Linked DNA regions of Homo sapiens. The protein of the gene in region 1 purifies or fractionates together with the protein of each later gene. This does not show direct contact. Each region holds a gene or a part of one and is shown in the gene's direction. Other genes may lie near its edges.

Region 1 (4,121 bases):
GATTACAGGTATGCACCACCACACTTGGCCAATTTTTGTATTTTTAGTAGAGACAGGGTTTCACCATGTTGGTCAGGCTGGTCTTGAACTCCTCACTTCAAGTAACCCACCCACCTCGGCCTCCCAAAGTATTGGGATTACAGGCGTGAGCCACCACGCCCGGCCTCTATTATGTTTTAATATTTCGAAGGGGTAACTTCCCCTCATTGCTTTATTTTTTTATTTTTTGCTGCTTTTGTTTTTCCAAATAAACTTTATAATCAACTTGTTTAGGATCTCAACTTTATTTTCCAAACAGATGGTATTTTTTATTAGGATCGTATTAAAATTATAAATTAAAGGTAAGGTAAATTTACATTTTAAGTCATTTTTTATTGTGGTTAGATAAACATAAAATTTTTCACTTTAATCATTTTGAAGTATACAGTTTAGAAGCCATTTTTTAAAAATAATTTTTATTTTTTAGAGACAGGGTCTCTGTCATCTAGGCTGGAGTGCAGTGGTGTGATCATAGTTCACTGCAACTTCAAACTTGTGGGCTCGAGTGATCCTCCCACCTCAGCCTCCCAAATAGCTAGGACTACAGACATGTGCCACTACACCTGGCTGATTTTTTTTTTTTTAAGCTAGTCAAATTTAGCAGTGGGGACATTGTATACCAACTTTAGTGATGCCAGTGTTAAGTTCTGATAACTCATTACCATCAGACCAGCCTTGGCTAATTAAAAAAAATTTTTTTTGTAGAGACAGGTCTTCCTATGGTGCCTAGGCTGGTCTCAAACTGGTCTCAAGCAGTCCTTCTGCCTACACCTTCCAAAGTGCTGAGATTACAGGCATGAGCCACTGCACTCTGCTAGAAGTCATTTATTTTTAATCTTTCTAAGGTAATAGGTAAAAATGGTATCTCAGTGTTTTTTTTGTATTTTTTATTATTTATTTATTGAGACGGAGTTTTGCTCTTGTTGCCCAGGCTGGAGTGCAGTGGCACAATCTGGGCTCACTGCAACCTCCACCTCCCAGGTTCAAGCAATTCTCCTGCCTCAGCACCCCCAGTAGCTGGGATTATAGGTGCATGCCACCAAGCCTGGCTAATTTTTGTATTTTTAGTAGAGACAGGATTTCGCCATGCTGGCCAGGCTGCTTATCTCATTGTTTTAACTTGAATGTCTTTCCTTACTAAAGAAATTGAATACCTTTCCCATATGTTTCTGTTTTTTTTTTTTGAGATGGAGTCTCGCTTTGTCTCCCAAGCTGGAGTGCAGTGTGCAGTCTTGGCTCACTGCAGCCTCTACCTCCTGGGTTCAAGGATTTTCCTGCCTCAGCCTCCTGAATAGCTGGGATTACAAGCACTTGCCACCATGCCCAGCTAATTTTTGTATTGTTAGTAGAGATGGGAGTTTCACCATGTTGGCCAGGCTGGTCTCGAACTCCTAACCTCAAATGACCCACCTGCCTCAGCCTCCCAAAGTGCTGGGATTACAGGCATGAGCCAATGCGCCTGGCCGTCCGATATGTTTTTTAACCACTGGTTTTATTTCTCTGGTGATTTGCTGTTTTAATCCTGGGCACTTAGCCTGATAGAATTTCCCATGTTTGAATATTTTATGTTAGATATACTGGAGTGCTTGTTAATAGAGAGTTTTGTTTGATAATCTGCTATCTGAATCAACTTTTGTAGTACAATATTAGTAAGGATCTTTAAGTAATATTAACTACTTTATTGTGGAACTGAGGTAGGGCCACTTAAACCCTAAAGCAGATTTCCTGCCTGGAGAGGCAGTGCATTCTAATGGTCAGTAGCAGGGACATTGAAGTCAAAATATGTAAAGTCCTTAAAACAGAGCTTAGAATATAATAAGCACTGTATTTATGGTTTGATTTTGTTGTCTTGAGCTGATACAGTAAGAAGAAAAATGGAAGAATTAGTGGGATAGATTGATTCTTTTATAAAATTTAAAAGTATTGATCCTCTCTCTTTTTTTCCCATTTAGGTGTGAAATGTTTCTCTTATTCTACGAGTCTGATTGGCCTTACATTTCTGCCATACATTTTTACACAAAATAATGCTATTTCTGAAAGTGTGCCTCTGCCTATTCAAATCATATTCTATGGCATCATGGGAAGCTTTACGGTGATCACCCCAGTGCTGCTTCACTTTATTACAAAAGGCTATGTCATTCGATTGTACCATGAGGCCACAACAGACACTTATAAAGCCATTACCTACAATGCTATGCTTGCAGAAACGAGTACAGTGTTTCACCAGAATGATGTGAAGATTCCAGATGCTAAACATGTATTTACCACATTTTATGCTAAAACAAAATCACTGTTAGTTAATCCAGTGCTCTTTCCAAACCGTGAAGACTATATCCATCTAATGGGTTATGACAAAGAAGAATTTATTTTGTATATGGAAGAAACCAGTGAAGAGAAACGGCATAAAGATGACAAATGAGCCTATTTGTTAGTGTTCGTGCTCAAATGTGATTTACGTTTTAATGTATAATAATAAAATTGCCTTTTGCATTCCGTTAGTGACTGATTGTTAAAAATAATTTGAAATTATCAAAGCTTTTAATTTCCAGAGAATGATGTTTGTTTATAATAAAACAAGCTATGTTTGAAAACCAAAATGTAGTATCTACCATTCGTGTTTTAGAAAGGTATGTGAATAAATATGTTCATGCTAGTATAAGAGTTCTGTGTTACTGTGGTTGACTCTAAACTGGGGATCTGATGTCAGTAGCAAATGGGAGAGTTGCTTTATTCTTTGTGTATGGATTTTTCTAAGTGTATAAATATTTTCCGACATTAAAAGACATTTTCTCTTTGAGGAAGACACAGTCATAGGTGGTGCGGAGCTGTGGTCCACCTGCTCCTGCTCCTGACTCACTGCTCTTTGCTGTTGCCTGAGGACCAAGTCTGTCAGGAAGCTGGCTAGGAAGCCTTGCAGCAGCCATGGCTTTTAAACATACCAGAAAAACACCCGTGGAGTCAGAGGTGGCAATTCACCGAATTCATATCACTCTAACGAGTTGCAACGTAAAATCCCTGGATAAGGTGTGTGCTGACTTGATCTGAGGAGCAAAGGAAAAGAATCAGTGAAAGGACCAGTTTGAATGCCTACCAAGACTTTGAGAATCACTACAAGAAAAACTTACGGTGAAGGTTCTAAGGCATGGGATCGTTTCCAGATGAGAATCCACAAGCGACTCATTGACTTGCGCAGTCCTCAGATAGTTAAGCAGATTACTTCCATCAGTATTGAGCCAGGAGTTGAGATGGAAGTCACCATTGCAAATGCTTAAGTCAACTGTTTTCATAAATTGATTACCAGTTGTTAAAAAATTTTCAAAAAACCGCAAAATTTCAAGAAATTCACAAATTATGGGAGCAGTTTTAAGTCTTCTTTGGTTCAGAACACAGGTTTTTGCCTAACCCCTGGCATGATTGCCCATAAGAACATACATGTACAGTTGAACTGGTGGTTAGCTATACGGGAAATGGTAAGTAGTGTTGTCTTCAGTATCTTAATTTGTTTCTGCAACTGTGCACTCCTCCCTTGGTGGCACCCTATGGGTGTAGGAAAACCACTGTTATTAAACAGGTGAAAAATACCTTGTGTAAAATTGCTGTCTCTATGCTAGCTTTGTCAAGAATATCCATTGTAAGATTTTTACCTCTATTGTAAAGTGGAGATTGACTCTTGCCAAGGATTTTTAGCCAGGAACAAGAGGCCTCAAACCACACTATTTAGATCAGTAGATATTTACTAAGTGCCCAGTACTGTGCTAGTTACTAAGATCACAGTTAAGAATGAAACACCCCGTCTGTCTTTATGGAGCTACCTAACATTGTCTATGGCCACCATGATAGTAAATTTAAACTTTATGGCGTACATGTGTATGAGGGAGGTTGATGGGGAAGCAGCAGGAACATCTGTTCAAAGAGATCATTCAACTCCCAGGCTGCTCGAAACTTATTCATAGGAGATAAGACAGAAAAGCTGTCTTTCTGAGACGTAGAGCCTGCCCTCTGCTTGGATTGTCCAGCTCACCAGACTGAGAATTCCCACCGCCATTCCTCTGTGCCATCTTCTGCTCAAGGTGGGTTTTTGC
Region 2 (7,032 bases), on another chromosome or scaffold:
TAGTTTAAAGACCTTACTTCACTTTATTCGTGATTATAGAATTGGGAAACACCCCATTCCATAAAACAGAAGGAATGTTTGATGAGCTGAACAGAGGAGGATGGTTTTATAGACAGAAGGGGCTGAAGGATGCAGACATGGAGAACAAAAAGTGGACTGGTTATTTCAAAGCTACTTTTGTTGTAAAGGTGAAAGTGGAAGGAGCTCCCTTATCATGCCAGCTTGTTTGGAGATTTAGCTATCTTTCACTCTCCTTGTTTCTTAGAAGGTCGGATAAACAACTTAGTTTCCATTTGGTGACACCGCACTTTAGCAAGAGTGACTCCATTTTTGTGTGATCTATTGGGCCTCATGCAGCTCAGTCCAGACCAGTGGCCTCCTATACATTTTATTTAACACTTGCTCCTGCTCCTCAGTGTCTGAGGTTGGAGTCATCTGCCTGTTTCTCACTCCCAAGTCTGGAGCCTTGTTTGGGACAACTTGCAGGCTGGCTTCAGCCAGAACTGTGGCCCAAAGCACCTCCTGGGGCTTGTCACAGCATGGTGGCTGGGCCCAGGCAATTTCCTGCAACCAGAGGTCCAAGAGACCAGCACAGATGTTATCAGGCATCTTCCGACCTGGGGAAGGGGACCTGAGTGTTTGCACCTGTTTTGTTATCCATGGGAGTATCTATCAGCACACCCATCCCAGGGCTGTTAGAATGAAATGAGGAAATGCTTGTAAGGCACTCAGCACTTTCTTAACACATTATACATCCCCAGTCACTGACTATTTGTTATTTATTAATGAAGCATGTGGGGAGGCTGTGACCTTGTGCTTGGCCTTCGGCAGTGCTGCTGAGAGAGCTGAGCTTCATCTGAACTGGACCACATGGGCTTGCATCTGATCAGCCTGGGATAGGTGGGGAATAGGCTTCGGAGAGCATGCAGGTGGCTGAGGTTGCTTTCAAAGCTCCACAGTATCCTGCCCATCCCACAACTCCAATAGCCAGTTGAGGTTATGGTGTCTGAGACTCACTGGGCAGGGTAGACAGAGTGTCTGTGCCCTTCTGTGACTTGCTTCTATTGTGTAAAACTGCCTTGCAGAAGGTTCTTTGGAGAGCCAGGTTCTAAAAGGGATTCTTTCCCACCTGTGAAATTTGGCTCTGTCCTTTGTAGGGCTCTGCAGCTCTTTTTGCCCTGTGGCATATCAACTCAAGATGTCAGGAAGTTGTAAATGCAGAACCAGAGGGTAATGACATGTGTTGCTTTCAAAACACACAGCTAAGCTCTATTTTTAAAACCCCCAATTTTAAGTGATGTTTTTCAGTGTGTGTACTCTTAAGCAAGAGTGTAAAAATCCTCTTTGTAACCAAGCATTGAGCACTGGGAAATTTCTTGGATGCTTTTTGGAGATTAATTGCAGGAACAGAGGCCCTTTTGCTGTAGTTCCTCTGTGTTTGCTGTAGTTTCCTCTCTGTGGCATGCCTCTAATCGTTCAGAAGGCAGGACACTGACAGCGGCAAGACGCTGTGCGCCTGTGCTTCATTTTCCTCCTAGTGATTCCAGTGATTAAAGTAACTTTTCTAAGGTTTTTCAGGGAACTCTACATGAAAAAGGAACCCCTAATCTTAGGAGGAGGATCCTCCCGAGGAATCCAAGTCCTCCCCAGCTGTCAGGGGCACGACTTACTTTAAATAACAGATGCTTTGGGAAAATTGTCCAAAACAATTTTTGTGACTGACGTAATATCTCAAAGCCTGCCAGGGAAGATTGCTATTAAAAGAAAGTCCATTGTGGGCCAGGCGCCGTGGCTCATGCCTGGAATCCCAGTACTTTGGGAGGCTGAGGTGGGCAGATCGCTTGAGCCCAGGAGTTTGAGACCAGCCTGGCAACGTAGTGAGAACCCCATCTCAAAAAAAAAAAAAAAAAATTAGCCGAGCGTGGTGGTGCATACCTGTAGTCCCAGTTACTTGGAAGGCTGAGGTGGGAGGATCCCTTGAGCCCAGGAGGTGGAGGTTGCAGTGAGCTGAGATCACGCCAGCGCACTCTAGCCTGGGCAATGGAGTGAGACCCTGTCTCAAAAAAAAAAAAAAAAAAAAAGCTCATTGTGAATAGTAACTCCGTATTCAAATTGAATTTCTGTATGCTGGGTTCCACTTTCAGTTAGGGTGTGTGAGTGTGAGGGATGTATTTAAATAAGCAACAAGAGTACTTGAAAATTCGTACGTGTGTGTCAGGATTGTAATGGAAATCCCAATACTCTTATAATGCCTTTTTAAAACAAAATACCAAACCCCTGCCCCAGCCACGGGCATTGGCCGACTGCGTCCAGCTGTGTTAGGCCCTGGGTGGGGCCCTGGGCATCTGTGAGCGAGATGGAGCGCCCTGGCTGGCCGGCCCTCAGCTCCGCATGGCTTGTCGCATCCTCATGGCACCAACATGAAGTGGTTGGTGGTCCCATTGCACAGATTTGGAAATAAAGGCTCCAATTCATGTACAGCAATGAATAATCCAGAAAATGCTCAATACCACAGAGCCCACATTCTAATGAGGAGATGAACCATAAGTCAGTAAATGAGTAAGTCCACACTGAGGTGGGAGGGGAATTGTGATGTAATTCCCAACGCCAGTCTACATGATAAAGGAATCTTAGGGACACAGTCCCTGCCCTTGGGGAATGGCATTGTGCCCTGTAATGGGGACCACCAGGGAGCATGGGGCAGTGTGAAATGGTGTGGGCCTCTGAGAGGCGAAGGACAGGTCATCCATCATGTGCTGGGAAACTTGGGAAAGGCCGGAAATAGGAGGTGGAGTTTCAGCTACACTTTAAATTGCCATGGGTCCTTGCCCAACTCTTCTTGGAAATGCTGAGAAATGGAATTTTCTTGTCTCACTGCCCATTTCTTTGGGCAGATTTTTTTTTAAACTTTCTTTTCCTCCTCCCTCTCTTCCCCACTTCCTTCCTCCTTTCCATCCTTCCTCACCTTCTTACCTCCTTCCTCCCCCTCCTTTCTACCTTTTCATCCTGAAATTGAAGCACTAGCAGGAACCATAACTATGTGCGAAGAGCCATGTGCACATGGGTGTTAGGGCCACTGTCCCCCAAACCCCACATGGAGCTTTCTTCAGGTGCCTGTGTGGTCTGAGCACCAGCCATGGTGGCCAGAACAAAGATGGGGGAGGGTTGTTCTGTTTGCCTTCTTGGGGGACACCTTGACTCCATCTGACCCACAGCCAGAAACAACCCAATGGCACCTAGTCCTTCCAGTCCCACCCAGACCAAGGATCATTATACCCACTCCAAGGATTAGGAAATGGGCTTGGATTAAATGATATGTGCATTGTCTGTGGTTAGTGAGTGGCTGGACAGGGGCTGGACTTTAGACCCTGAGTTTTTAGTGGTGACTCCAGGCTGCCAACCAGTGGCTCATGAGGCTGGCAAGTATGTGTAATCACCCCTGTCCCAAAGGAAAAAGAAAACCATTGGAAATCTTGCATCTGCATAGAAAGGGGATGTGCATGTAGGTCCATGTGCACACATCGTCAGAGTCGGGTCCCAGGACCAGCAGCGGCTGCATCACTAGGATCTTGTTAGAAATGCAGATGCCCAGAACGGGGACGGGGCACACTGGCTGCAGCTAACACGTCCTCTGGGGACTTCTGATGCCACTCAAGGTTGAGAAGCACTGATTTGGGCCAAAAAAGAGAATGTCTTCTACTTAAGGGATGAAGCCACAAAGACAAGAAGAGGTCTGCTCCCTCCCTTGGGCATGAGGGGACCACCTGGTGCCAGTTACACCTCAATATGACCCTTTGGCTCGAGGACGCAAGTGGTCTGTTCCTCAGCTCTGTGCTCTGGACCAGGCTACCTGAACCCAGACCTGAGCAGGACACTCAGCCCTCGCCCTAGGGAGCGCAGCAGGCAGTGAGCATCTGGAAGAGTTGGGGGATGCGCAGGGTCTGGGACAGTGAGGTGCTCGGGAGAGTGAGCGCCTTGGGCTGAGAGCTGCAGTGTGGGTGTGAGGAGGGCACAGTGCCCCAGGCAGGGAGAAGCCACAGCAAAGGCCTGAGGGCAGGGGAGCTCACCAGATGTGGCCCGGTCAGCAGGGAGAGGCAGGTCATTGGGGCCTTGGTGGCCACTTTTTGAGCACCTCTGCATGTGGCGAGGCACCTGGGGGACACTGTGTTTGGGGCTCTGTTCTGATCTGCTGGACCCAGGCCACCTGTCAGCCCTGGAAAGACAGGGACACAGGGCTTATCTCACGGGCCACCCAGCCGCACCTGGGTGCTGTCCATCCTGGGGCTGGCCTGCCCCTCTCCACCTTCCTCACCTCTGCCTTCCTGCTTGGTATAAAATGGTGCAGGATGTCCTGCTGGGCTGGGAGGCTGTGAGGGCCTGTTTGAAGTTGGGCAGTCACTGTTTCTGAGAAGAGTGTCCTGGTGCCCTGGCTGCTGTGGGAGCAGGTGAGGCGATGAGATGAATGCCAAGGCGAAGTGTCCAGCGTGGTTCGAGCCCTTCCTGCTTCATCTTGGCTGGGGCCTTGGGCAGGTCACCAGGCCATGCAGAGGGCGTTTGCTCATCTACACCTGGGCAGGCCACTCTTCCGGGGGGCTCCAGGGTCAAATTTGGAGTGGAGCAAGTATGTCAGGCAGAGCTTTTCAGATATGAGAGTGGGTTCACATCTCCTGGGGCTTCTTATGAGGCTGGTTGGGACTCAGCAGGTCTGGGTGGGGCTGAAGATTTGCATTTGTGACCAGCTCCCGGGGGGGATGGTGGGTGCAGACAGTGTCGATCCTCAGCTAGACATTCCCAGGCTTGTCATAGCATCATAGAGTCACTGGAGGTGACAGGCAGGCAGCGGGGTGTAGGACTCTCTGTGTAGGGATGGTCTCCTGCTGATTGTTCAGAAGCCAGAAGTCCATGGCTTTCATGTGAAAGCTCTCGATTTTTAAATATTGGACTGGACTCACACACGCATGCCTGCACACCCTGGTCAGGGTGGTTAGCACAACTGTATGCTGGACTCAGCCTAGGGACCACGTTGGCTAATATCTGCTGTACCCGTGTATTAATTTTCTCCCTGGCAGTTGTGTTGTTTTTCCATCTCCTTCAGGGTTTACATGTTCCTGTCGCCTGCCTGAATTGGCCTCACTATTCTTCTCAACTGTTCTGTCTTCCGTCTGTAAGACCAAGCCTGATTCATCCCTCCTCCCCAATTCCCCCACTACCGGCAAAGCTCGCTTCCCTCCCACTTGTTGCATAGAGCAGTTCTTCACCGCCTGGTGAAGAACTGGACTGTTACCGGGGGACTTTGGAGGGTGGGGCGGTGGGACAGACTGTGGAGCCAATCTGCCTGCGTTGAATCCAGCTCTGCCTCTGTGTGACCTTGGCCAGGCAGCTTAACTTCTCGGGGCCTCTGTTCTCCCATCCATAATGGGAGATGCTGGTGGTGCGGGCGCTGTCTCCGTGGAGGCTCTTGCAGTAATTATTGTTTCAGCCCCAGGCTGCTCTTGACTTCCCAGGGTTTGCCTTCCCAGGGTAAATTCAGCTCCAGTGCCCTGTTTGGACAAGTGTCATGAGCCTGCCGCCACCGGCCTTGTGTGTTTGGTCACTTTTGCATGTTTCTTACGTTTGCATCTGTCTCCTGCACCCATGGCAGGGGCTTCGAATCTGCCCTGGCATTTCCCTCAGTGTTCAGTGTGGGGCCTTGATCAGGATTGGCACCCAGGACTGGTTGGGTTAAACCATCTCAGGGTTGTATGCTCCTTCTTTTTGCTCCTAAGAGACTCCCCAACACCCAGCAAAACATTGTGGGGTTAATGCTACACTTGGCATGACCACAGTGAACAGAGGTTAGCACCCCCAGCTCCCCAACACACACAGAGATGTTGTGTAAATTCAGGTCTGCCACTGATCCCCTTCTTAGTTTGTCTTCTTGTTTTTATTTTCTTCTATTTTTTGGGCATGTCTTCTCTTTTATTTTTCTGTTAATAGTAGTTCAAAGAACTTTCCTGTGTCTCTTACTAGTATTAGTAATTTTTTCCTGGAATCTGTCTACATTTGTTACATTTTTTGAGGTGTAATTTACAAACAGGCTACAGGGGTGACCCTGAGAGACCAGGTGGGTGGGTGCTGCTGCCCCCAAAACCATTCATGGGGCTCATGTCCCTGCATACCTGGGGACCCTCCGATAAGCCAGTGAGTGAGGAGAGCTGGCTTGAGGGTTGCCAGAAGGGGCTCAGCTTTGGAATCTAATGAGTAGTGACCAGCCTGCCAGCGGAGGGGCCCCGTGCTGCTAATCCTCAGTCTCACGGTGTGCCACAGAGCTGTTTCTGCCGGAGGGTCATGTGTGGGAGCTTGGGTAATGGAGAGGGAGGGAGCAGAGCCTTCTGCAAAACCAGGACATTTCCCCATCACGAGCCACTTCTTGGAACAAGGCTGGTTTACTGGGTGCTCGTGGAACACGTGGGGGAGTTGGGTCCTCGTCCCTTCTTGCACCTTTAACCTTGGGGGCAGGTCAGCACTGGGCACATGGGAACTGCAGGAGCCAAGCCCTGAAACAGGAACAACCTGTTTGCACTGAGTGTTCTTTCCAACAGCTTAGGCTGCAGTGCCCAGCCCTGGCTGCACATCAGAACCAACCATGGGGGCTTTGAGGCTTTGAAGGCCCAGGACCCATTGGATGGGGTCTCTAGGGGTGGCCCAGGAGATGCCAATATGCAGCCAGGGTTGGGTCCACTGGTGTGAAGCAACCACTTCAAAATATTTGCAGGACATCACCTTGTACCTCTGAGATCATGTTTGTTCACCCTTCTCCTTGCAAGGGGGTAGAAACATCATCACTGATGAGGACAGGGTCTCTGTCAGTGGAAGAAGAGAGAGCCACAGCAAACTAGACCCGCTCCAACCCCTCAACCTGGCCGAATTCTCACTCAAAAAGCACCAAGTGTAACATCCGCAAACCCTCTTTTTGTACAGTCAACTGCTTGGACCAGCATGTTCGGAAGTCCCCCGAGAGCGTTGCTTTGATCTGGGAGCGCGATGAGCCTG
Region 3 (7,032 bases), on another chromosome or scaffold:
AATTATGTCCTTGCTTCCTCAGGAAAAGAAACAGGCATATGGGAAAGGTGTAATTACATTCCCATTGGTAGTGTAATAATATTCCATGACAGAAAAATATAGCCACCATATGTTGTATTCTGTAAGTTAAAAAAAAGAATTCCAAGCTTCTGGGACTATGCTCAGACTGAACTTGAAAATGAAAAATCCATTTATATACAGTGTTCCTAATGGCTTATTGTGGTAACATCAAGCTAGCTTCAGCAGCAGAGAACCTGGTTTCATTAAGACAGAGACTTTTAAGCTGCATGTAAAAATCGTAAAAATCCAATAATTCAATATGGCTGCCATTCTCAAATGAATGATGATTATTTCTGCTTTGACCATGGTTCTGTTTCAATAGGACAGGATAAAATTTACCGCAAAAGTGTATTTCTTAGAAGATATATATATATATATCCTCCCTTCTAGAATTTTACTTAACATTTGAGTAACAACACTTGCTTTTCAGAATGAGATGAGGGAATAATAGAACATTTCTAGATTCACTCTCCCCACATAAGTTGGTTTACCTGATTGCCAGACTCTCTTGGTGTGGTCTGTTCTGCCAGTGTGCTCAGCTTTTAAAATGTTGAGTCCTTGTTCTTGTTGACAGATTGAGGATGCACTGAAGGCAGCAGACACCATTGGCTACCCAGTGATGATCCGTTCCGCCTATGCACTGGGTGGGTTAGGCTCAGGCATCTGTCCCAACAGAGAGACTTTGATGGACCTCAGCACAAAGGTATGTATTTTTGTAGACAATATTCTTACCAACCAAAAAAACTGGCTTGATAGACCTTTTCAACTAGAGAAAGTTATGTAGATGAGAAATTACATTTTCTTTATTAAATCATGATCATGTTCTCCAAAAGCGTATTCCAAAAGATGACACTTTTGCGAGAGCATGCAGTGCAACTCTTCATGCCAGGATGCAATGATAAACCACATGGTTCAAGGTAAACCAGTGGTCACTTTACCTCAAATTCCACTTTTATAGTACAATCTATTGACTTCAAGGAGATGAACTTAATTCAACTCCTTCTTCCTTTGTTTCAAAATCTACTCTCAAATATTTAAAATGCTAAAATATGTTTTAGTGGTTAAGGAAAAATAGGACATAATGTCTCATTTTTAATTTTTTAGAAATAATGTGGCTGGCATGGGTGACATCCAGAAAGTGAAACAAAGCACATTGAGTAGTTTGACTTTACTCAAAATTAAGGTGTCTAAAATATACATGGTATAAACCACTCAATACAGTAAATGACTGAACTCCACCAACTGCCATATACTCATAAAAACACGAGAGATTTGAGGGTTTATAATTTATTTTCTATCAAAATCACTTTAACATATTAGGAACTACTTCTTTCTTTGCATGTTAGAGGAAAACTCTTGAGAAAAGTAAGCTATGCTACAAAAACTAAATTAGAGACTAATGCAGAAAATATGCTCCAGGAAAACAGAGACTTTTGTCTATACTCTATTTCCACAAAATAGAACAGTGCCTGGAAATACCAGGAGTTCAATAATGTCTTTGAAGAATGATTACACGTGCAGCCAAGAAACCTGTGTAACTTACATGGCAGTCATAGAAGTGAATTTGACAGAATTACTGTAAGGGCTATTTTGGGAATTATTTAGGAAATAGCTCACGGACAGCTTATTGCTTCATCTTTACTTACTTTTTGAACTGAAGTGAAATGAGACCCTTGAATTGTTGACATAGAATTTTGAAAACAGATAAGTACAATTCAGCATATTTAAATAACTACAATGGCAGACTTACATATAAACAACTTGGGTTTCGTTTTTCTAAAGTTGTGAAAATTACAAAAAAGGGAAACATACCTCACATAAATGTTTCTTGTTACCATTCTGGACATATGAATCACATATTTAGAGCAAAAACATGTTTTTGAAGATAGAAAGTTTATTTCCTCTAGCATGTTAGAGGCTCCAAATATTTTCAATATTAACAACTTCATAACTGCCAATTGTGACAGTGTATACATATTCTCTATTAATTTTTTTACTCTATAAGAAACCAATCTGAAGACTGAACTTTTCATGTAAGAAAGTTTATAATAAAGAGAATTTTGGAATGAAATAGCTTTCAATTATTTATATTGTACTCAAATAATCAATAGTCCCTTAAATGGTTTTTCTTGTTGAAAAAAACCCTCGCTCTTCCCTTGAGAATAATTAGTCATATCATTATGTCCTAAACAATCCCCTATTCTCTTGAGGTTATAATTAGCACCATTAAAAGCTGCATTAACTTATCCAGGTCCCTAAATTAACTTTTTACATAAAATCGAAGACTTCAAAAAATAAAAATAAAAATAAGCTGAGGAAACAGGTGAAGATAATTTCAAATTTTCCCTGTATCTAAATATCCATTTTACTTCATTAGAATGCAAAATACTTTTCCAAATTTATACCCTTTGTTTCCTAGATTTCTTCTTTTAGCAGGCAACCGGAATGATGAATTAATCATTATTAAATTGTTAACATTGGCTACTGAATTTTCTAACCACTTTGAGAACCTCATCGTGGGCAGCTGTGGGGACAAATGTGTCACATTTTCATTTGCACGTGCTGGAGCCTGTAGTGATGACTGAAGTTTAAAAAAATCCTATTAAGGCACATTACAGAAAAACTTACATTAAATTATTATTTTAATGCCTATTAATAATTTGAAAAAATTCAAACTGCTTTCCCTTTCACTGTCAATCCAAATCAAATATATTATAAGACAATAAGACATTTCTCCCTTGGATTATCAGCCACTGCATGTCCTAAGGTCAAAGATTACCACTTTCCTATTTTGGGTTCAGTATTCTACCCATTGTGGGTGTGCCGTAAATATGAAATTATAATTATGCTAATTCATATCTGTCTAATCAGGCATACATGATATATGACTCAGAGTATTTAAGCATTTAGGCAGTGATTAACCATAATAATAGTCCCATATGATTCTTCTAATTCTCAAGTTTTATATGCCATCTTGGCTAACCGTTTACAACCATCATCATCTCCTTTCTCCTCCTCATCAACATCAACTAACTTTTATTGTGTGTGTCACTGTACAAAGCACCCTCAGCTATTTTAGAGAGAGCCAGAGTCTTTAGACTTATTTTTCCATATTTATTCACACTTATCACATTTTCTGGTTTCACAGAAGCCTAGCTGCTGAAATAATTTCATTTCCCTCTGCCTGATTGCTCAATTATTTTCTCTTTTTCCTAAATTAGTTTGATTTACTGTCATATCAGCACTTTGAATGGCAAGCCTCAATAATGTAAATCAAGCATATTCACTGCAGGATGCTATTCCTAGTACCTCACTGATTTTCTGACACATTGTGCCTTCTGTGCAGGGGAGAATGGAGACGGGGTTTGAGAGTTCAGTGCTGACCAGGATTTATGCCAGGGTATTTTGCCAAATATCCTTGTTGAAGCCAGTGCTTTTTCTTACTCTTTGATATCTTTTGTCACCAATTTCTAGGCCTTTGCTATGACCAACCAAATTCTGGTGGAGAAGTCAGTGACAGGTTGGAAAGAAATAGAATATGAAGTGGTTCGAGATGCTGATGACAATTGTGTCACTGTCTGTAACATGGAAAATGTTGATGCCATGGGTGTTCACACAGGTAGGCAAAGTATCTTCAAGAACTATAGTAATGCTTTCAGTTCATGTCTTTGATGGCCAAGGCAGTCTTTATAAAGTTGTTGCCTTTAAATTACTATTTCTAGTTGACAGACTAGTGATAACATTTTGGACAAGCATAGTATTTTACAGTATTGAAAATGTTCTCACATTTAATTTGATCTTCACACAAACCCTGTGAAGTAAGGCGGATATTACACTGAGTTAATTGAGGAAGAGCCAAAGGTAAGCAATATGGTAGAAATAAGATCCATAAAACTTAGTGTTGAGAAATAAGAAGGGAGGTTGAGACAGTTTAAAGCAGACTGAGCTGGTAATCACCCAGTAAATGAGAAAATAGGCACAATAATAGAAATAAGTTTTTCAGAAAAGTACACTAGTTAGATAAGAGGGCAAAGATGATAACTTAGGATTTAAAAGTGCTAAATTTGGGGTGTGAGCAGAGCTGTCAAAAAAGGGAGTTGAGAATGTGGAGATGGAATTTAAGAAATAAAATAGAAATAAATAAGTTGATACAAAGACACTGGAAACTGTTGGCATAAAAGGGGAAATTGAAGTTGTAGGCATAGACAAAGTATTCAAGGACATAGGTATAGAAAGAGGAGAGAATAGGGTTGAACTTTGAACTCTGGGAAACATTTAGATTTATAGGGCAGGGGAAAGAGGAAGTATTACTGTTGAAGATAGAAGGGGAGAATAAAGAGTTAAGAGGAAAATCAGGTAGTACTGTACCAACTAAGCCAATGCAAGAACTATTTTATAAAAGAGCTTTGTTTTTGGCAGTATCAAATGCTATGCAAGACCAAGACTGATTATTTAATTTGGCTCTTTTGGATGTCCAAGAGAACAATTTCATTGCAAAGTCAGTTCTGTGAGCTCTATTAAAAGGAATTACATGGTATCAAGTGGTAAGCAGAATTGGCAAACTTTCAAGAAGCTCATTCATGTAAAGAATGAGAGAGAAGCTTTGTATGGTTGTCTGGCAATGTTGGGAGAAGACTTCCGGAGGCAGTGAAGATCTGAGCGTGTTTGAAGGCAGAAGGGATGGAGACTAAGATTGCAGATATAAGGGGCTATGATGAGGGAAGTGAAGATGGAAAGGGATGAGATACAGAAAGCCAGCTGATGAGCCAGTCTGAGTGATAATATTCAATGAAAGGAAGAACTTCAGAAATAATTTGAGATGAAGAGCAGGGAAGTTGAAGTCAATCTAGTAAGTAGACGATTGAAGCCTTGATAGCTACTTACTAGATAGATGAACTTGGGAAAGGTTAGAGAGGTTTCTAAAAGTACTGTATCAGAGTAATATGGGCAAAACAGGAATTGGGGGAATACCTGATATCACATATATATCCCAACAAACCCTCAGACTGTTCTATGTCTTGCATCGTGCAAGTAGATGGTTAAGTCGCTGAAGTTGGTTATTTCAATATGCCACCAAGTAATGAGTGCTTCTTGGATATATAGGTGACTCAGTTGTTGTGGCTCCTGCCCAGACACTCTCCAATGCCGAGTTTCAGATGTTGAGACGTACTTCAATCAATGTTGTTCGCCACTTGGGCATTGTGGGTGAATGCAACATTCAGTTTGCCCTTCATCCTACCTCAATGGAATACTGCATCATTGAAGTGAATGCCAGACTGTCCCGAAGCTCTGCTCTGGCCTCAAAAGCCACTGGGTAAGACCAGAATAATTGACCATGGGTTTGCAGATTCTTTTCAGATAGAAATGAAAAATTGACAGATAGTGGAAGACTGTACTGCATTTACAAACTATGTTCCCTTTTTCTGTATGTTAGCTCCAAATCATTTATAGCACCCTGAGGACATGATTATTAATGAGCTTGTTGCCAGATTGAGGTAAATTATATTGCTAGCTGGCTTTGTTTGCAGGCTAATCTAAACGAATCAAAATCTAGGTGGCTAAAGCAGGCTGTGAAAAATCTGCTTCCTAATTGCACTTTGCAGATGTTGTTAAAAGTGCAGATTAATCCTTAATTTTAGTCTTCAGCTGTTTTCTTCAGGTGTATAGCCCTATAGCAAATAGTTGACAGAAAATATAGCTCACTTGACTCAAGCATGCAATACACATTACTTTTATTTTATCAAAACTCCACAAGACTGAACAGTGCGGAATTTTTTCACAAGTAACTGTTACAACCAAACAAATACATCTGCTGTCTATGTAACAGCCACTAGCAGGCATGATTGGAGGGAAAGGTAATCAAAACCTTTGGTTTCTAATAATATATTTAGCACCTTACACTTAAATTATGGCATTTAAATGAACACAATATTTACTTCTTTATATTTTTTTTACGTAGTTCCACAGCACTGCGTGGAGTGGTGAAAGGCATGTTGCCCTGTACAGGAGTCACAATTCTGCATTCTCACTTGGTTCTTCTGTTGACCGTGTGATTTTGAGCACATCACTCATTGTCTTTATCAGTTTCCTCATTTGTTAGGTGGAAGTTGTACTAAAGAACTCATTTTTAATTCTATAGTTCTATGAATTATTTTCTCAAACAGAATAACCCAAACTGACATTCTGGATGAAGATAGTCAAGTTCTCAAAGTGTTAGTTTTGTAAGGAGCCCAAAGTTCAAAGATAATTTGGAGACAGAGCAAGGACCCAAACTTGAAATGCCTACATTTTCTGACCATTATGTACTCTCTTGTACTAGCTAACTCCACTGTATTCTTAGGTACAGATATGTATATGTACAGATATGTATATATTTTCTCAAAAAATATTTTGCAGATTCTCATCTTAGTGGAGGTTAAATACAAATAAAGGTTAAACTTTATTTATCAATAAAGCTATCGATTTTGGGTTGAAGAGGTGAAGGTTGAGCGTTGTAGCAATGCATGTAGTGCACAGAGAGTAAATTCTCCTGTGACCTGTGCCTCTATACTTTGTATCATGACTCCTATTATTCCGCAAGTGGCTACTAAATATTGATGCAGAACAGAGAATCAAGTGTCTTATACCCTGAAGTAGAATAATACCAGAAATTTTAAGAAAGACCAATTTATGTTTTGGTCTGTTTTCAATAATTGCTCGAAGAAAAAAAAATAAATTTGTCTTCTTTTTATAGCTACCCATTGGCATTCATTGCTGCAAAGATTGCCCTAGGAATCCCACTTCCAGAAATTAAGAACGTCGTATCCGGGAAGACATCAGCCTGTTTTGAACCTAGCCTGGATTACATGGTCACCAAGATTCCCCGCTGGGATCTTGACCGTTTTCATGGAACATCTAGCCGAATTGGTAGCTCTATGAAAAGTGTAGGAGAGGTGAGTCCTTGGTTTATTACGCTTTTCTTCTTGTTCTCAG
Region 4 (7,923 bases), on another chromosome or scaffold:
TGTAATCCCAGCACTTTCGGAGGCCAAGGCGGGTAGATCAGTTTAGGTCAGGAGTTCGAGACAGCTTGGCCAACATGGTGAAACTGAGAGGTGACAGCGTGCTGGCAGTCCTCACAGCCCTCGCTCGCTCTCGGCGCCTCTTCTGCCTGGGCTCCCAGTTTGGCGGCACTTGAGGAGCCCTTCAGCCCACCGCTGCACTGTGGGAGCCCCTTTCTAGGCTGGCCAAGGCCGGAGCTGGCTCCCTCAGCTTGCAGGGAGGTGTGGAGGGAGAGGTGCGAGCGGGAACCGGGGCTGCGCGCGGCGCTTGCGGGCCAGCTGGAGTTCCGGGTGGGCGTAGGCTTGGTGGGCCTCGCACTCGGAGTAGCCGGCCGGCCCTGCCGGCCCGGGGCAATGAGGGGCTTAGCACCCGGGCCAGCGGCTGCGGAGGGTGTACTGGGTCCCCCAGCAGTGCCGGCCCACCGGCGCTGCGCTGGATTTCTCGCCGGGCCTTGGCTGCCTCCCCGCGGGGCAGGGCTCGGGACCTGCAGCCCGCCATGCCTGAGCCTCCCCCCGCTCCGTGGGCTCTTGTGCGGCCCGAGCCTTCCCGATGAGCGCCGCCCCCTGCTCCACAGCGCCCAGTCCCATCGACCACCCAAGGGCTGAGGAGTGCGGGCGCACGGCGCGGGACTGGCAGGCAGCTCCACCTGCAGCCCCAGTGCCGGACCCACTGGGTGAAGCCACCTGGACTCCTGAGTCTGGTGGGGACGTGGAGAACCTTTACGTCTAGCTCAGGGATTGTAAATACACCAAGGTTTGTAAACACACCAATCAGCACCCTGTGTCTAGCTCAGGGTTTGTGAATGCACCAATTGACACTCTGTATCTAGCTGCTCTGGTGGGGGCTTGGAGAACCTTTGTGTGGATACTCCGTATCTAGCTAATCTAGGCTAATCTCCACGTCTCCAGGCTGGGGACGTGGAGAACCTTTGTGTCTAGCTCAGGGATTGTAAACGCACCAATCAGTGCCCTGTCAAAACAGACCACTGGGCTCTACCAATCAGCAGGATGTGGGTGGGGCCAGATAAGAGAATAAAAGCAGGCTGCCCAGAGCGAGTAGTGCCAACCCGCTCGGGTCTGCTTCCACACTGTGGAAGCTTTGTTCTTTCGCTCTTTGCAATAAATCCTGCGGCTGCTCACTCTTTGGGTCCACATTGCCTTTATGAGCTGTAACACTGCAAAGGTCTGCAGCTTCACTCCTGCCTGAGCTAGTGAGACCAGGAACCCACCAGAAGGAAAAAACTCCGAACACATCCAAACATCAGAAGGAACAAACTCCAGACGCGCCACCTTAAGAGCTGTAACACTCACCGCGAGGATCTGCGGTTTCATTCTTGAAGTCAGTGAGACCAAGAACCCACCAATTCCAGACACAAAACCTCGTCTCTACTAAAAATACAAAAAATGAGCTAGGTGCAGTAGTGGATGCCTGTAATCCTAGCTATTCGGGAGGCTGAGCCATGAGAATCATTTGAACTTGGGAGGTGGAGGTTGCAGTGAGCCGAGATCATGCCATTGCACTCTAGCCTGGGCAACAGAGAGAGACTTCGTCTCAAAAAAAAAAAAAAAAAAAAAAAAAAAAAAAAAAAAAAAAAAAAAACTTTCTCTGCTCTAAGACCTCCCATAATGTCTTCTAGAACTTTTATGCTTTCATCTTTTATATTTAATCTTTCATCTACTTGGAATATTTTGGTGTTAGGTGTAAGAAGTAAGCAGGGATCCAGCTTTTTTTTCCAGAGGGCTAATCACTGGTCCCAATCACTTCTTGAATTACTGAGTTTTAAAATCTAGAATGAAGGTCAGATTTTGTCAATGACCTATTAAGCCTCTGTGAATATAAGTTTTTCTCTTTTAAACTCTTAATATTCATTTTATTAATTGATTTCTTAATAGTGAATCATCCTTATACTTCTGGAATAAACCTTGCTTATTTACAGTGTGTTATTCTTTTCACATGCTACAGGATACTTCAGTTATTTTTTTTGCTTCTTTTTTGGAGACATTCTCTCACTCTGTTACCCAGGCTGGAGTATAGTGGCATGATAAGAGCTCATTGCAGCTTCAAACTCCTGGGCTCAAGTGATCCTGCCTCAGTCTCCCGAGTAGCTGGGACTACAAGTGTGCATCATTACGCCCAGTTTTTTTAAAAAAATGTTTGTGCAGATGCGGGTCTCACTATATTGCCCAGGCTGGTCTCAAACTCCTAGGCTTAAGCAGTTTGGGAGGCCCACCTCAGCCTCCCAAAGTGATGGCGTGTCCGAAATTGGTGGGTTCTTGGTCTCACTGACTTCAAGAATGAAGCTGCACACCCTCGCGGTGAGTGTTACAGCTCTTAAGGCGGCGCGTCTGGAGTCTGTCCCTTCTGATGTTCAGATGTGTTCGGAGTTTCTTCCTTCTGGTGGGTTCGTGGTCTCACTGGCTCAGGAGTGAAGCTGCAGACCTTCGCGGTGAGTGTTACAGCTCTTAAGGCAGCGTGTCCGGAGTTGTTCGTTCCTCCCGGTGGGCTCGTGGTCTCGCTGGGCTCAGGAGTGAAGCTGCAGATCTTCGTGATAAGTGTTACAGCTCATAAAAGCAGCGTGGACCCAAAGAGTGAGCAGTAGCAAGATTTATTGCAAAGAGCGAAAGAACAAAGCTTCCACAGCGTGGAATGGGACCCGAGCAGGTTGCCAATGCTGGTTTGGGCAGCCTGCTTTTATTCTCTTATCTGGCCCCACCCACATCCTGCTGATTGGTAGAGCCCAGTGGCCTGTTTTGTCAGGGTGCTGATTGGTGCGTTTACAATCCCTGAGCTAGATACAAAGGTTCTCCACGTCCCCATCAGATTAGTTAGATACAGAGTTTCGACACACAGGTTCTCCAAGGCCCCACCAGAGCAGCTAGATACAGAGTGTCGATTGGTGCATTCACAAACCTTGAGCTAAACACAGGGTGCTGACTGGTGTATTTACAATCCCTGAGCTAGATATAAAGACTCTCCACGTCCCCACCAGACTCAGGAGCCCAGCTGGCTTCACCTAGTGGATCCCGCACCGGGGCTGCAGGTGGAGCTGCCTGCCAGTCCTGCGCCGCCGTGCGCTCGCATTCCTCAGCTCTTGGGTGGTCGATGGGACTGGGCGCCGTGGAGCAGGGGGTGGCGCTCATCGGGGAGGCTTGGGCCGCACAGGAGCCCATGGAGTGGGTGGGAGGTTCAGGCATGGCGGGCTGCAGGTCCCGAGCCCTGCCCCGTGGGAAGGCAGCCAAGGCCCGGCGAGAAATCGAGCGCAGCGCCGGTGGGCCAGCACTGCTGGGGGACTCAGTACACCCTCCGCAGCCACTGGCCCGGGTGCTAAGTCCCCCATTGCCCGGGGTCAGCAGGGCTGGCTGGCTGTTCCGAGTGCGGGGCCCACCAAGCCCACGCCCACCCGGAACTCCAGCTGGCCCGCAAGTGCCGCACACAGCCCCAGTTCCCGCTCGTGTCTCTCCCTCCACACCTCCCTGCAAGCTGAGGGAGTGGGCTCCGGCCTTGGCCAGCCCAGAAAGGGGCTCCCACAGTGCAGTGGGGGACTGAAGGGCTCCTCAAATGCCACCAAAGTGGGAGCCCAGGCAGGGGAGGTGCCGAGAGCAAGCGAGGGTTCTGAGGACTGCCAGCACGCTGTCACATCTCAATGGGGGGTTACAAGACATGAGCCACAGCACCCAGCGTAGTTAATATTTTATTTAGAATTTTTCCACTGATACTTACATGTGAAATTGGTCTGTCGTGTGTGTGTGCGTGATATCTTTGTTGATTTTGGTATCAAAGTTATGTTTACTTTTTAAAAAGAGTTTGGAAGACTTCCATCTTTTTTGTGCTCTGGGACAGAATTAATAGCATTTGAGTCAATTACTCATTTGTGTGGAATTTTCTTGCAAGACATGGAGGGCTTTTGTAACTTTTAGGGGTGAAGGTGAAGGTGAAAGTGGGCCATGGTGGTAGCAAGGATAGTTCTTTGATAAACTTCTCTATTTTTTCTGTGGTAACGGTTTGCTTAAATTTTGTCTCTTCCAGGATCTATTTTGATAAATTGTATTTTCTTGTAACATCATCCATTTCATCCAGAGTTTTAAGTTCACTTGAAGTTAAGCAAAATTAGCATCTTACAAATCTATAATTTGTTTCCTGTGTCTGTGATTTTCCCCTGCTTGTTTTTTAAATCATGTCAAATGTGCATTTTTCTCTATTTCTGATTAGATAACTATTTTATTTTTTGTGAACCTGTGGGTTTATTAGTCCTTTGACACTGGTTTCCTGAATTCATTTATTTATTCCTTTATCTTCCCTAATTTCTCCCTCCTGCTTTCCTCATGAAGCATCTACATGTAGTGTTTACAGTTTCTTTATTCTCTAGATGTTCCTCAGTTTGCTCTTTGACTTCCTCTTTTTCCCAATAGTCAGTTAGAATACCTGTTTTAAGCTCAGGTGGTTTAAAGATTTTCACTTTAGCTTATTTATTTTTTCATCCCTGAGAGCACTAGAGAATTGTGTATCCTGCTGTCCATCCGCATTTGGCTTCTTCCCCAGGGTTCTTCTCCCAGAAGGTGACGAGAGCGAAGAAACCCCACGGGATGCAGGAAGAAACAGTGACAGGCAACCAAGAGGGGGAGGATGGAGAAAACCCTTGCCTTAGTCAGAGCAGGCCCCAGGGGACGCAGAAACAAAGGCCACACCCCCACGAGCACGTGGCCAGACTGCCCAATCGTCGCTACTGAAGCCGGGCTCTGGTCTTTGATTGGTGTTCGTGGAGACGCCCTCACATTCTTGGATCAGCCCAAAGGTAGGCTCAGGCTCCGACGGTGGCCGGCGGGGGTCACGAGGCTTCGTAGTGGAGGAACGGGTTTGGCGTGTGGGACGCAGCTGCCTCTGTACTGGGGAGTCACGGAGTGGCCGGGCTCCAGGGACATGGCGGCGGCCTCTGCGGTGTCGGTGCTGCTGGTGGCGGCGGAGAGGAACCGGTGGCATCGTCTCCCGAGCCTGCTCCTGCCGCCGAGGTGGGTGGAGGGGCCATGGCTCAGTGGGCAGAGGCGGGAGCGAGGGGTGCACGGACCCGCGTGAGCGGTGGGAGGTGCGGCGGAACCCAGGGTCGGTGTGGGGAGGACGGTAGGAAAACCCCAGGCACTTTCGGAGGGGTTCTGCCGGCAGTCACGGCGTCGGGAGGAAGACATCCCCACCAGCCCTTCCCTTTCTCCCCGCTTCCGCACATCCACGCTTCAGCGCGCCTTTGGCTTCTGTTTTTCCATTTCTGAGGACTGGGCCCGCCATCCTCCAGGCTCCCCTCGCCGTCGCTGCAGCTCGTAGCCGTTTACATCGGGCTTTCGCAGCACCCCTTAGGTGGGAGCGTTGTTATAATCCGGTTCCGGGGAAGCCCAAAGGGATCAACGACTTCCTCAACGAAACACAGCTAGTAAGAAATGGGGCCGGGATGCCCTCAAAGCCATTTTTCAGTTCAGCTGTGCCCCATCAGGTGTCCAGTTCAGAGAAAGACTCCTGGAGTTCCTTCTCATTGTTAGAAGAGTGAAGTTGTCAAGAAGAGCAAATGTACCTTCCACAGAGCTGGGAAATTATTTTGTCAAAAACTCTTGTACCCAAGTTTGAACAACGCTATCAGATGACTCAGTCTAGCTCACCTGACTCCAGCTCTGTTTCAAATTTTGAGCTCTAAGCTTTGGTGGCAATAACTCTGGCAGTGAAAAAACCCTCAGGCTTGTAGATAGCTTTGCTTCTTTGTCTTCTTTTGCTTCATCGTTATCATCCTTCATCATTCTGGAAAGATTGACAGTTTAGTGTTCAAGGGCACAGACTCTGCAGTCAAGGCTGAGGTCTTAGTTAGCTACTCACTAGGTGTGTGACTTTGGGTAAGTTACTTAATATTTCTTCTTTAATTTCCTCACCTTGGAGATGATACGAGTACCTTGGGTTGTGAAAACTAAATGAATTAATTCATGGAATGAGGTTTAAGCACAATCTGGTACATAAGATCAGTCTATAAATGCAAACTCAACCATTTATATGAACGTTTGCTTGCTTTTATTTTCCAGAAATATTGTAGATGCCCTTTTTAGTTACTTAATTGTAGGAGTGCCCCAGAGAAACATAAGAAAGTTGTTGGAAGTTGGCGGGGCGCGGTAGCTCACGCCTGTAATCGCAGCACTTTGGGACGCCGAGGCGGGCAGATCACGAGGTCAGGAGATCGAGACCAACCTGGATAACACGGTGAAACCCCGTCTGTACTAAAAAATACAAAAAATTTAGCCGGGCGTGGTGACACGCGCCTATAGTCCCGCCTGTTAGTCCCAGCTACTCGGGAGGCTGAGGCAGGAGAATGGTGTGAACCCAGGAGGCGGAGCTTGCAGTGAGCTAAGATCACGCCACTGCACTCCAGCCTGGGCGACAGAGTAAGACTCCGTCTCAAATAAAAAATAAAAAAATAAAAAAAAAAGTTGGTGTAAGTAATGTTAATGTTCTTCTTGTTCTTCTGGTTTTTCTTTTCTTAGGCCTCCAGGGCTCTTCAGGATAGTACCATAGACCCATTTCCTGTCTTCCCTTTCAAAGCTTAGCTATTGTCTAAAGAACTATCCTCAAGTATGTCACTCTGGAGAGTGTTAGAGTTGTTAATGGCTTATAGAAGTAAAACTCTTTGCCAGGAGACTTGGTTCATGCCTGTATTTTCAGCAGTTTCTCAGCACTGTGGGATCCAAGGTGGGAGGATTGCTTGAGTTCAAGAGTTCAAGACCAGCCTGGGCAACACAGTGAGGCTTCATCTCTACAAAACATTAAAAAATTAGCCAGGCGTAGTGGCACACACTTGTAGTCACAGCTACTTGGGAGGATGAGGAGGGCGAGGACGGCCTGAGTCCAGGGGTTCCAGGCCGTAGTGAGCCATGATCACACCACTGTACTCCATCCTGGGTGACATCCCATCTCAAATAAAACAAAAACAAAAAAATCTTAACAGCACAGATAGTTTACATTATTTTTATGTTATGAATCTTTAGTAGCTCACAGAAAATAATCTCTGGTGGCAGAATTATAGACATGACAATAAGCTGGTATAGAGCTACCTTGAATCAGGGAAGCAGCTTCTTTTTTTTTTTTTGAGACGGAGTCTCGCTCTGTCGCCCAGGCCGGACTGCGGACTGCAGTGGCGCAATCTCGGCTCACTGCAAGCTCCGGGGAAGCAGCTTCTTAATCTTGTTTAAGCCATTGCTTTTAAGTTGCAGCTTAGATAATTGTGAAAAATGGAATAGATGATCAGAACATTGTTGGGATAGTGGATTACAGTTAAGTGGGATCTCTGTCTCTTTCTCCCTCTTTTTCCCTCTCTCCCTTCTTCTGTCTTCACTAGAAGATTGCAAAAGAAAGCTTTAGGTCAACAGTAGCCTTGAAACCGAATCAGTCTTAAGCTAGCTTTACCAACAAGCAACCATTTAATAGATACATCTGCCCAGAATAGGCCTTGAAACTTATCAGAAGCCTATCTGAAGAATGTAAAGGGAAGACGATGCTATGAGCTAGAAAATACCTCATAAAGATCAGGAAAGATGATCCCCCTCCTTCAGGATCAAGAAGGTAACATCAGCTGAAATGGAAAGGTGTGGGAAAGCAGCAGCCTCGTGAGGAAGCTAGCTCACGGAACTCTCCTGCCAAAGCTGTGGGTCTTCCCAGCAGCTCCTCATGGATGGCAGCATCTGAGTGTGCATTGTAGGGCAATGAGTGTATAGACGCATATAGATGTGTAGATGTCTACTGCATCTCCGCTCCAGTGAAATACTAGTCCTGCTCAACTACATAGTCATATACATAATATGTATATACTACTGCCTAGTTACATAGTTTCTAATGCACACGCTGTGCTTTTATCTTGTGCTTTG

The links.
Region 2: the proteins of TMEM70 (region 1) and ACSS1 purify together in Homo sapiens (affinity purification with mass spectrometry; 2 studies listed by BioGRID and IntAct, with this or other methods). This does not show direct contact.
Region 3: the proteins of TMEM70 (region 1) and CPS1 purify together in Homo sapiens (affinity purification with mass spectrometry; 2 studies listed by BioGRID and IntAct, with this or other methods). This does not show direct contact.
Region 4: the proteins of TMEM70 (region 1) and MCCC1 purify together in Homo sapiens (affinity purification with mass spectrometry; 2 studies listed by BioGRID and IntAct, with this or other methods). This does not show direct contact.

What each region holds. Positions count from the first base shown.
Region 1 is NC_000008.11:73,979,164-73,983,284, forward strand, and holds the end of TMEM70 (transmembrane protein 70, mitochondrial), read left to right. Parts: exon of another isoform or gene 1-8; intron 9-1,991; coding exon 1,992-2,458; 3' UTR 2,459-3,620; downstream 3,621-4,121. UniProt on the Homo sapiens protein: Scaffold protein that participates in the c-ring assembly of mitochondrial ATP synthase (F(1)F(0) ATP synthase or complex V) by facilitating the membrane insertion and oligomer formation of the subunit c/ATP5MC1 through its interaction.
Region 2 is NC_000020.11:25,048,110-25,055,141, reverse strand, and holds part of ACSS1 (acetyl-coenzyme A synthetase 2-like, mitochondrial isoform 1 precursor), read left to right. Parts: intron 1-6,960; coding exon 6,961-7,032. UniProt on the Homo sapiens protein: Catalyzes the synthesis of acetyl-CoA from short-chain fatty acids. Acetate is the preferred substrate. Can also utilize propionate with a much lower affinity. Provides acetyl-CoA that is utilized mainly for oxidation under ketogenic conditions.
Region 3 is NC_000002.12:210,601,568-210,608,599, forward strand, and holds part of CPS1 (carbamoyl-phosphate synthase [ammonia], mitochondrial isoform b precursor), read left to right. Parts: intron 1-634; coding exon 635-763; intron 764-3,534; coding exon 3,535-3,679; intron 3,680-5,163; coding exon 5,164-5,374; intron 5,375-6,793; coding exon 6,794-6,992; intron 6,993-7,032. UniProt on the Homo sapiens protein: Involved in the urea cycle of ureotelic animals where the enzyme plays an important role in removing excess ammonia from the cell.
Region 4 is NC_000003.12:183,096,472-183,104,394, reverse strand, and holds the start of MCCC1 (methylcrotonoyl-CoA carboxylase subunit alpha, mitochondrial isoform 1 precursor), read left to right. Parts: upstream 1-4,898; 5' UTR 4,899-4,954; coding exon 4,955-5,043; intron 5,044-5,151; exon of another isoform or gene 5,152-5,907; intron 5,908-7,923.